Linked DNA regions of Homo sapiens: region 2 is linked to region 1. The links come from fine-mapping of genetic effects on gene expression. Tissue or cell type: fibroblasts. Region 1 holds a variant in brackets; the other region holds the start of a gene. All regions are shown on one strand. Distances are between the middles of the regions.

What was found. PIP is the estimated chance that this variant, and not a neighbour inherited with it, causes the effect.
Region 2: SGMS2 starts here. The variant in region 1 is fine-mapped to the expression of SGMS2 in fibroblasts (GTEx, PIP 0.93).

The regions. Positions count from the first base shown.
Region 1 is chr4:107,894,271-107,899,483 of GRCh38, reverse strand. It overlaps SGMS2 (sphingomyelin synthase 2), which reads right to left. Exons shown (of 7, transcript NM_001375905.1): 3 at 3,476-4,174. The coding sequence starts at 3,930. All of the region lies in intron 1 of CYP2U1-AS1 (CYP2U1 and SGMS2 antisense RNA 1), which reads left to right. Among named protein-coding and RNA genes, the nearest start is that of CYP2U1, 35 kb to the left of the region's middle. The variant G/C (reference allele first, on the strand shown) is at 2,493.
Region 2 is chr4:107,822,141-107,827,272 of GRCh38, reverse strand. SGMS2 (sphingomyelin synthase 2) reads right to left here and starts at 2,341. Exons shown (of 7, transcript NM_001375905.1): 1 at 2,020-2,341. RefSeq lists an enhancer at 1-123.

The DNA of each region.
Region 1 (5,213 bases):
TAATCAGTACAGAATGGCATTAACAAACAAACCACAGTTTCACAGAGTTTAAAGGCTTACTTTTGAGTTGCCCATCCCTACAGTTTCATGGAGAGATTTGCACCACAGTTTTCAGAAATGAAGATTCACATACTGCAATAAATCTAGGTGGTTTGGCTTCCAAAGGATGTGTGTGTGTGGGGTGGGGGAACTAAAGTAGACGAAGAGTCTACATAGTCACCTCTCCTCAAAAGCACTCTTTGCCAGAGAATGAACCTGTCTGTATTTTCAGTCAACTCACTGCATTAAAACCCTTTCTTGAGAACATATGAAAGGAATAAGCAAGCCACAGTAACAGAGGAATTAACTAATGAGCCAAGGTGACATTACATAATTAGACACATAGGGAAATGTGACAACACATTTAGCCCACGGTATATAAGCAGGGTTTATTTGAGGACCATCTGAAGGTATTTTGACAATACGGGCATGAACTATTTTCTCTATGACTAGATTTTCAAAAAACTCTATCTTGAAAATGTCCAAAGTGTTCTCATACAGTTAATTACATTTAATAGTGAATGTGTAAGCTGATTATTTCATTCAATCTTGATCAAAAAAAGGATAAAAAAATCCCACAAGTCATTTTTCACTTTATATTTTTGTGAGAAGAACGTTGTCCTAACATCAGCCCCTGTGCTTCATGACCTGAGTCCTCAGCCTGAGGCAGGCTTCCCAGTGGATGACGGAGGATCCTGTCTTCAAAAGGGAAGGGCTCTGCCACTGTACCATTGCCTCATGGGTATCTGAATGGGCATCATGGGTCTGAATGTCTTTAGTCCAGCTGAACAGGACAGCTCCTTTTCTGTTGTATAGTTAGGTCTGTCAGCTCTGGGCTCTGGGGATTAAGAGATGAGTGGGACTCCACATAAAGCCCCTAGACTTGCTAGGTGTAACTTCATTACTGCATAAAACATATTACTCTAGGTCTCTCATTTTCAGAGGTCTCAAGCTTTCAAGACTGGTAGTGATCAAAGACTTCTGAAAAAACAGGCAGTTTCAGGTAATGTGACATATTTTAAGTTTTCCCTAAGATTGTGGTTCTGACATGAATCAAGGTCTAATTCAGATAACATTTGGAACTTCTAATTTCAAGAATTATGTATAAATATATATTTCAGCTGTCTGTTTCCAACAGCTATTTTAAGAATATTCCAAGGTTTCTGGGGTCAAAAAAAAAATAGAAGGGAACACCACCTAGACTAGTAGATGAGAGTATTTATTTATCCCCAAGGAATTTCTTTAAAGGCTTGCTATTCTAGTTCTGCCTTTCCTGGTACTAAAAAGGAGCAGGTAATAAACAGTGCTGAGTTTCTTCCCTTGGTTAAGGGAAAACCAATTTAGCCTTTGATCCAACCTCAGGTTCCAACAGAGTGCTGTTTTGAATTGTGCTCCATGCTGTTAGACAAGGGGAAGTAATAAGCAGAAATTATTATGAGTCAATTACATTCATTCCAGCATTCTGAGTTCAGCTGTACTCAGAACAGAAAACCAACTTAGAAGGTGAAAGATGTACTCTACAGCCTTATTTAGAAAAAGAACTAGTGCTAATGACTTTTTCCCATAGCTTTGAAAGGTGCTTTTAAAAGAGAGAGCAAGCAACATTCCTCATTCAGCTGGGATGTTCAAAACAGGTTATAAAAATTATTCTACTAGTTACTAAAATGTAAGATCCAATTCTACTTCAAATGTAAAAAGGCAAACTTGTGTGAATTGCGACTGAAACAGTGGATATCATTAAAATTTATGGTCTGGCTATGTGACCGTGTGTTTGGACATGTTGAAAATCTAAGGTGGTAGGTAGAGGCAGTTAATAATAACTATCTAATGAAAATTCAAAAAGGATCTAGATGAAAATACAGCTAAATTGAGGGAAAGACTGTACTTCAGGGTGGAGTCCACATACTTACCAGATTCTGGACAATTTCTCTTTTCACACATATATCAATAAAACCTTGCTCTAAATAAAGGAGAAAGCAAATTATCTGCCGCCTTAGCAGGCTCTTACATTGTGTTAATTTCCAGACACTAAAGAGAAAAACACTGAAGTTCATAAATACATTTTTTGCTTTTAGCATAAAGCATCCTTTAACAATTTCAGGAGCAGGTTACTTTTTTAAGTAAAAGACAACTCATAGCTAAGTCTATTACTTAAGCATATTAAGGAAACACATGAAGAGTTATATTAAGGAAAATGCTTAGGAATGACTGCAGTTTGTGGAATAAGGTTTTAAGACTGCAAAGTTGCATTTGGGGAACTCTTTAACAAAGATAGACTGAATTCCTCTAATCACAAAACAGTAACAGTGTTAGGGTCTGAGTGGATATACCACATTGAGAGTTCTATAATTGATCAAGTAATGAAAAGTGTTACCAACTAAAAAACAATACAGCCAAAATTCTCTAAGAATGATCTTGTGGCATTAATACTGAAATCCTATTTGACTTGGAAT[G/C]TTCAGATTGTATCCAAGTTAGCATACATTACATTTTTAAACTCTGTATTATGGTCAGTGTTTTGATCAAAATCATATTTTAGTGATTTAATCACTACCATCCCAGTGGAAAACAAATGTCTAAATGATGAATGAGAGGAAAGGAGGAATTAAGGAGCCTTCGTTTTTATGGACTAGGAGTCAGAATTCACATAGAGAAGCAGAAATAACCACTTCAGGGCTATGTCCAATTCTTAAGTGTCTTCAAAGCAAAAGTACCTGACTTATTTCTTCTTGATTTCCTACTATTCCAAAAATGAGGAGGCTGAACCCAGTGAACCATGAGCTCCTTTGTGGTGTCCAAGGAAAATCAGAGGGCAAGTTTACTTTAGAAATCTAAAAATCAAAACCGCATGGATCTGGTTCTAAACTCAGTCTCTTAAACACTTGTAACTAGATAGCAAGCAAACAAAAAACCGAAACCACATCCACACACCCAGCCCCACAGAAATGTAAAATTTGAGAATTGAATCTAGGCAAACCTTAAAGCAGGCTATTGACTCTAGACCAATACAGACATCACATTATGAGTAATGGAGAAAAAAGTTTCTCAACCTATTCCTTTTCCCACTTGTCAAGAGCCTGAAATAACAAACATGATGGGAGTGAATGTTATTCCTTTCCAAGCCTCTTGATTTATCATACAAATACCATAGCACCAAGTTGCTGGAAGTCAGGAACTGCACCTTAAATTCATCAACTCTGAGTCATCCACCACAGTACTGCTGTACACTGCCACTTTCATACACAGTTGCTCATCAAACACTTACTGAATAGTGACTGAATTTATTCAATGTGGTAGAGCTTTCTACTGTTTTCTTTCATCAAATGTTTGGGTAAGACTGAATTTATTGGGGGAAAAAAAGGAAAAATAATCTCAATAACCCATCTATTCACTCAAAAACAAACCCATGACAAATCCTCAAAACATTAGATTTACTTACTTGTATCTCAGAAACAGCCACTGGGTGATCCATAATCCAACTAATATAATCCCATTTATTTCTGATACAGAAAATGCCCATTTCACCCTATCAATGTAATCAAAAAACTTGTCTGGGAGTGGAGGGCTAAGCTCCTTGGGAGGGACCCTCTCATGTACAACTGTGATCATGACGGTTGTCAAGACGAGGTTGAAAACTGCATATATGAAGGCAATGCCCGTTTTCCACCACTCTAGTGGAAATTTGTTCCTTGATTCAGTGGGCATAGCAATTTGGATATAGTCCGGGTACTTTTTGGTGCCTTTTCGCAGCCCACTGGATAAGCTCTTGGGTTTACCATTGCCATTTTTGTTTTCTTCTTCAACAGGTTCAGCGGGTCTTGCATAAGTGTTCGTAGGATCACTGGGTTGATTTTCCAAATGTTCTTCAAGTTTTGCTGTCTCTATGATATCCATTGTCCCCTAGTCTTCAGATCAAAAAGGAGATGGTCAAGTTCTTGTTCTTTGTGGAAATTTAGCTTTTTTCAATCCTTCTATTTCCAAGATCAACATGGACTCTTACAATGGACTTTGTTTCCTAATACAAAATGTAGAAGGTAGCCATCCGATTACTGTTTCTTCCATGCAGCTATATGCTGTACCTTCACCACTTTCAAGAAAGGAAGCCAATTCTTCCCTCAAAAAGATGTTACTATCCCACCTAAAAGCAAAACAAAATTATGTTCAGAAACTATGCTTGTCCAACTGTCAACCATCCAAAACAGAAACATTCTTAAACTAAGGAAACAAATACCAAAGCCATTTGCTTTATAAATGTAACGTCAGAACCTAGTTAAAGCTGCTGAGATCAAGTTTATTTACAAAATACTGAACAGTTTTATCTTGGAATTCTTGTCTCTTTTTGAGCTAGTATTGGTAGAAATAGGAACATTTTAACAATCAGTTCCCTTTAAATTTCCTTAAAGAAAAATCAGGACCTAACATTGCAAACACTTCATCAGACACTATCACTTGTTGCTAACCATGAAGTCATAATAAGCTAGAAATTACCCAGAGATCACATCAATCCTTCCTAAGACTGTATTTTCTATGAGCCATAAAGAAAGAATAAAAAACTGGTAAGAGGCTTATATGCATTGAATAATTGTTACTCTTCATTTGTCAAAATAGTCAATTTTCTATTTTCTAATTAAAAAACAGAAGTCTTTTTAAGTGACCGCTTTTAAGAACAGATTCAAGAACAACACATTCAAGATTTTTAAAATGGCACAGCCTCAGTTTATCCTTTTATATTCAGAGACGCACACCATATACAAGAAAAGCTGGCAGCCTTCAAAATAACTCTGAAAAGATACACCAAGCCTTAGCTATGTCTCTCACGCAGGTAACAAGTAGAATTTATTTGAAGGATAAAAATACCTCACTACAATTGGCATGATAAATTAGTAACTAACAATATTTTGATTCAGCTACCACAATTTCTACCAAACAACAGAAACGGGCCTCCAGAGGACCAGCTCAGGGGACTCACCCACCACGACACTGATGAGGATAACTACCTTTGGCTTCAGCTCCACAGGCTCCAGAGAGCACACACTTCTTTCGGACACGGGGCACCACTGCCACCTCTTTTATACTTGCTAGCACACAGCCCCAGCTGTTCTCAATTTAGGAGAGCAGTCTTTTAGTCCTGCTACAGAAACCAGCCACCTGATGAGGTTTTCAAACCTCGTAATTAG
Region 2 (5,132 bases), 72 kb after region 1:
AAATAAATATCTGATACTAGTAGTTCAAGACAAAGCCTTCAATTTCTCCATTGAGACAACACGCTAAAGGTGGGTAAGTCATTGTTTAGTCTAAAACTGTCCAAAACTCTCAGTAATTATTCCTTTAAAAAAGAAACATCTCACCTCAAAGCATCACTTTTAAAAAAAGTTCTCACTGATACTCCATTGTCTATTTTAATAGTTCTAAGATTATTTCTATTTTTCCCCTATATTTTGTTTAAAGTCCCACAAAAATCCCAAAGAGTTTAAGTAAACTTGCTCAAAGGAACACAGCTCAGAGAGCCTCAGGTCTCCTGGATTCCCATGTCCATGATCTCACTACACGGTACTGTCGTAGGACAGCTCCCAGATCTTTCACCCTGTAAGTTGTTATAGTTATGGTAAGAGCAAATGTCTTCAATAACGTGCACAAGTGCTAAAGTTTCTTCCAAACATTTCCTAGGGCTTTTATGAGATTCTGCGAGGGGAGAAACTCAGAACAAGGTGCAGCCACCTCAAGGTGTCCAAGTGTTTCCCTCTAGGTTCACAAGTCAACTAGCTTTACTTAAAAATGAAACCAAAGGAACCAAATTAAACATTAACTTGTTAAAAAAAAAAACACTTCAACCAGACTATTGTGAAGTAAGAACATTAGAAGACCAAGGAAAGGGCCATAAAGAGGAAATTTTGCACTGCTTGCACTGCTTCTTTAGGAAAAAAAAAAGGTAAAGGTAAAGTTAGCTTCCTCACGTCCTTTCTTCCTGTAAATTCCAGGTTGTCACTTTCAGCCATTGCTCTGACATTGTTTAAACAGTAAATGGCAGTTCCCATGACACAGGATGGAAACCATAACCTTCTCAGGTATCCGTACTAAAAATGTTTAACTTGCTGAAAACATCACTTCCCAATCTAAGGAACTTGCCAAAGGATTTCACATGCTAACCCTCGGCCCACCAGGCTTATAAGGAGGACATTCTGTGGAAATTAATTGGTTATTACCTAAGCCAGCTGCAACACACTATTATTTATATATAAACAGCTATAATTTGTTGGGGTCTGCTTTGTACCAGACATTATGAGAAGTCTTTTGCGCTTTAATCCTCATTATTATCCTCATTATTAATCCTTATTTAATCCACCTTATTATCTGAAGTAGCTATAATCCCATTTTACTGGTTCAGAATGTTTAATGTGCCTGAGCACCCACCGTTAATAGAGGAGACTGGTAATGAAACCAAGGATTTGAAAAGTTAGGTACAGATTGAAAACCCACGCCGAATCCAGTGACACTAAACAGTTGAATCTCTTCAAAATATAACACACATGTCAAAATGATTTTAAGGTCATTTCAGAGCAGGCAAGACTTGAAATAGAGGACCGGCAACATTAATAAATAAAAAAGACTACAGGACATAACATTTTGAGTTGGTTTCAAGCCGTGGATAATTAATGATTATCCATACCTCTGGATGGATGTTGACAGGGGTTCCCCGCCCCTTATTTTCGCTGAGAAACCAAGTCTTCCCTTCCGTAAAGGGAGCAGCTCTGGAATGCCACACGTTGAAGGGTTTCGGTGTGGGCTGCCCAGAGCTGGGCTGTTACTGTTCACACATCATCAGTAAGTGCCTCTCAAAAAAAAAAAAAAAAAAAAAGAGAAAGAAAAGAAAAACCACACACACAAACACACACACACAGTCCCTCCTCCACCAACTGAACTTCAGCCCTGACCTCCGGAGTGGTTCTGGACAATCTGGGGTTTAACCTGTGCCCTTCCAACGCCAGGACCGGGGTACCCGAAATGGGTTGCAAATGAATGAGATGACTGCTCAGAGGAAGGAGACTAAGGCACACATCTCTCCTCCAGACCACAAAATCGAGGAAGCATGCCCTGGGCGGGGAGGGTGGGGGCCGGATTAGAGCCACGTCCCCGCTTCGCAATCCACCTTTCCCCTCCCGCGCTTCGGAGGACTCTCCGCTCCCCAGCCCATCCTCCTCCTGGCCCCTCCGCGCGCTCCTTACCCGCTGGTGGCCAGGGCTCCAGACACTCCCAGCTGAAGGCACTTGCTCCCGGGAAGGGGATTTGCCAGGGGATGGAGCCCGCTGCCGCAGCCGCCGCGACCAGCCCCGGGCGTCACCACCCTCGGGCCGAAGCCGCTAGAAAGTTTGCTCGGGGTCTCGCCCTCCCACGCCGCGGCCTGACTAGGGGAAGCAGCTCTCCGGGTCCCTCCCGCGGCCGCCGCCCCCGAGGCCGCACTCGGCGGCGCTGCAGCACCGGCCAGGCTCCGTGCGCGCCGAGGGCTGGGTCTCCCCGCCCCACTCGGCCCACGGCGCGGCGCTCAGTGTTGACCGCGGCCCCGCGCCCGCTCTCCCCGCCCGCCGCGCGCGGCCCGCTCCCTGCGCCCTGCGCCCAGCGCGCTCTTGACATCATTCATTCTCTCACACCCTCGCCCGCCCACTCCATTTCCAAACAGTGACTCACCCGTCGGCCCGGTGGCAGCAGTGCCCGTTCCTGCTGCCGTGGCTCTCCTGGCGCAGAGTGGAGCTCGAAAAACCTGCGCGACTTCTTAAGAAGAAAATCCCAGCCGACTCTCCCCTCGCGGCTGTTTAAGGTGCAGAGAAGGAGGGGCTTGGCAGGCAGGGCAGTTTGGCTCCCGGCCGAAAGGCTGAGGGCCTGGAGCTGACCTCCCTGAGCGGCAACAGAGATCAATCTGGGAAAGTTCTTTGGGTGCCACTCCCAGCAACTTTCAGGGGTGGGGCTGGAACGGGATCCCCCACCCCCGCACCCGGCCTGTTTCGGAAACTGCTTCCTGACGGCGTGTGAGTGGGCTTGGGAGCGCCAGCGTTGATTCAGAGGGTTTATCGGTGTTGACCGGGCCTAGGTCAAAGAGGTGGGTTTCCAAACCTCACAGCGTTGCCTGGCAAGGTTAGTCATCAGTCCGCATGGTATGAGCTGGAAGGTTGCTCCAAGCTAATGAGGTGGCAGCACTGTCCCTTTCGTGCCTAACCATCGTGTCATTTGTCCTGTTAATTGATTTACTTCTCACTTAAGGAATCGTAACCAAAATAAACAGTGTAAGTAGTTATTTGCTTAACTGAATACTGCGCTTTTCCGCAGCTTTTGGGGCCCAAGGCAGCCGTGTGGTTTCTTCGAAGGCCTCAGTAGTTTTTTAAAAGGGGGATTGCTGTCTTTAAAATGGTAATGGTTCTACATTGTCCTGGAGTTGCTATTCATACACCTGCTGGGCAGTTTTCAAAGTAAACGATGGCAGCCTCAAGGACTCTAACTAGGAATGACCAATCCGAGGGAATGTGGCTAAATCTTTCTTGACATAAGTTTTACATTAATGTCTCCTTCTGGACAAGATAATTATGTTTAGGATTTGCGCTGGTTTATGGGTGCTTCCATATAATCAACAAAAATAATGACGGGAATCTTTGGGTTTCTAGTGCAGATATCATGTGGGTCAACAGTCATTTGTGGCTATTAAAGATGATGGTAACAGAAAAGAATATACAAGGCAGGCAATCCCCAAACTCGCAACTTCAAGATGTCGTCACAGTACAGGCAACCAAAGAAAATGGACAAATGGGATCATATTAAGCTAAAAAGCTTCTGCACAGCAAAGGAAACAAACTGAAGAGACAACCCACAGAATGGGAACTATCCATCTGACAAGGGATTAATAACCAGAATATATGAGGAGCTCCAACAACTCTATAGGAAAAAAAAATCTAATAGTCCGAGTAATAAATGGGCAAAAGATTTGAATAGACATTTCTCAAAAGAAGACATACAAATAGCAAACAGGTATATGAAAAGGTGCTCAGGCAATAAATACTGGCGAGGTTGTGGAAAAAAAAAGGAACCCTTGTGTTTGTGGGAATGTAAAAAGTATAACCACTATGGAGAACAGTATGGAAGTTCCTCATAAAACTAAAAATAGAGATACCGTATGACCTAGCAATCTCACTGCTAGGTATATATGCCCAAAAAAGGAAATCAGTGTATCAAAGAGATACCTGCACTCCTATGTTTATTGCAGCACTACTCACAATAGCCAAGGTTTGGAAGCAACCTAAGTGTCCATCAACAGATGAATGGATAAATCGTTACATATACCCATGGAGTACTATTCAGCCATAACAAAGAATGAGATCCTGGCATTTGCAACAACATAGATGGAACTAGAGGTCATTATGTTAAGTGAAATAAGCCAGGCACAGAAAGACAAATTTCACATGTTCTCACTTATTCATGGGAGCTAACATTTAAAACAATTGAACTCATGGAGACAGTAGAATGATGGTTACCAGAGGCTGGGAAGGGTAGGGGGGATGGGTAATGGGTAAAAAATATATATATAGTTAGATAGAATGAATAAGGTATAGTATTTGATAGCAAAACAGGGCAACTACAGGCAACAGTAATTGTGCATTTTAAAATAACTAAGAATATAATTGGTTTGTAACATAAAGAAAGGATAAATGTTTGAGATGGTAGATATCCCATTTACTCTGATGTGATTATTATGCATTATGTGCCTATATCAAAATATTGTGTGTACCCCATAAATATACCTACTATGTACCTACAAAAATTAAATTTAAAAAAATTTTTTTGAGATGGAGTCTTGCTCTGTCGCCTGGGCTGGAGTGCAGTGGCTTAATCTCAGCTCACTGCAACCTCCACCTCCTGGGTTCAAGCAATTCTCCTGCCTCAGCCTCCCGAGTAGCTGGGATTACAGGTGTGTGCCACCAACCCTGGCTAATTTTTGTATTTTTAGCAGAGACAGGGTCTCAACATGTTAGTCAGGCTGTTCTCGAACTCTTGACCTTGCGATCCACCCTTCTCGGCCTCGCAAAGTGCTGGGATTTACAGACATGAGCCACTGTGCCCGGTCCCCCCAAATTTTTAAAATATAAAACCAAAAAAAGATGTTGTCACAATACAGAAGTTTCCCCCAAATGAAAATGCTCCTAAAATTAACCAAGGGCTCAACATCATTGTTGTGGAAAATGGACTCTTTTAGAGCTACTTTTAAAGGTTAGAACCCAGAGGAGACCACCAATCGAAAGTTATTGTCCTGGGGTTTATTTTTCCCCTTCAATAAGGAGCTCATTTTCAAATTTAC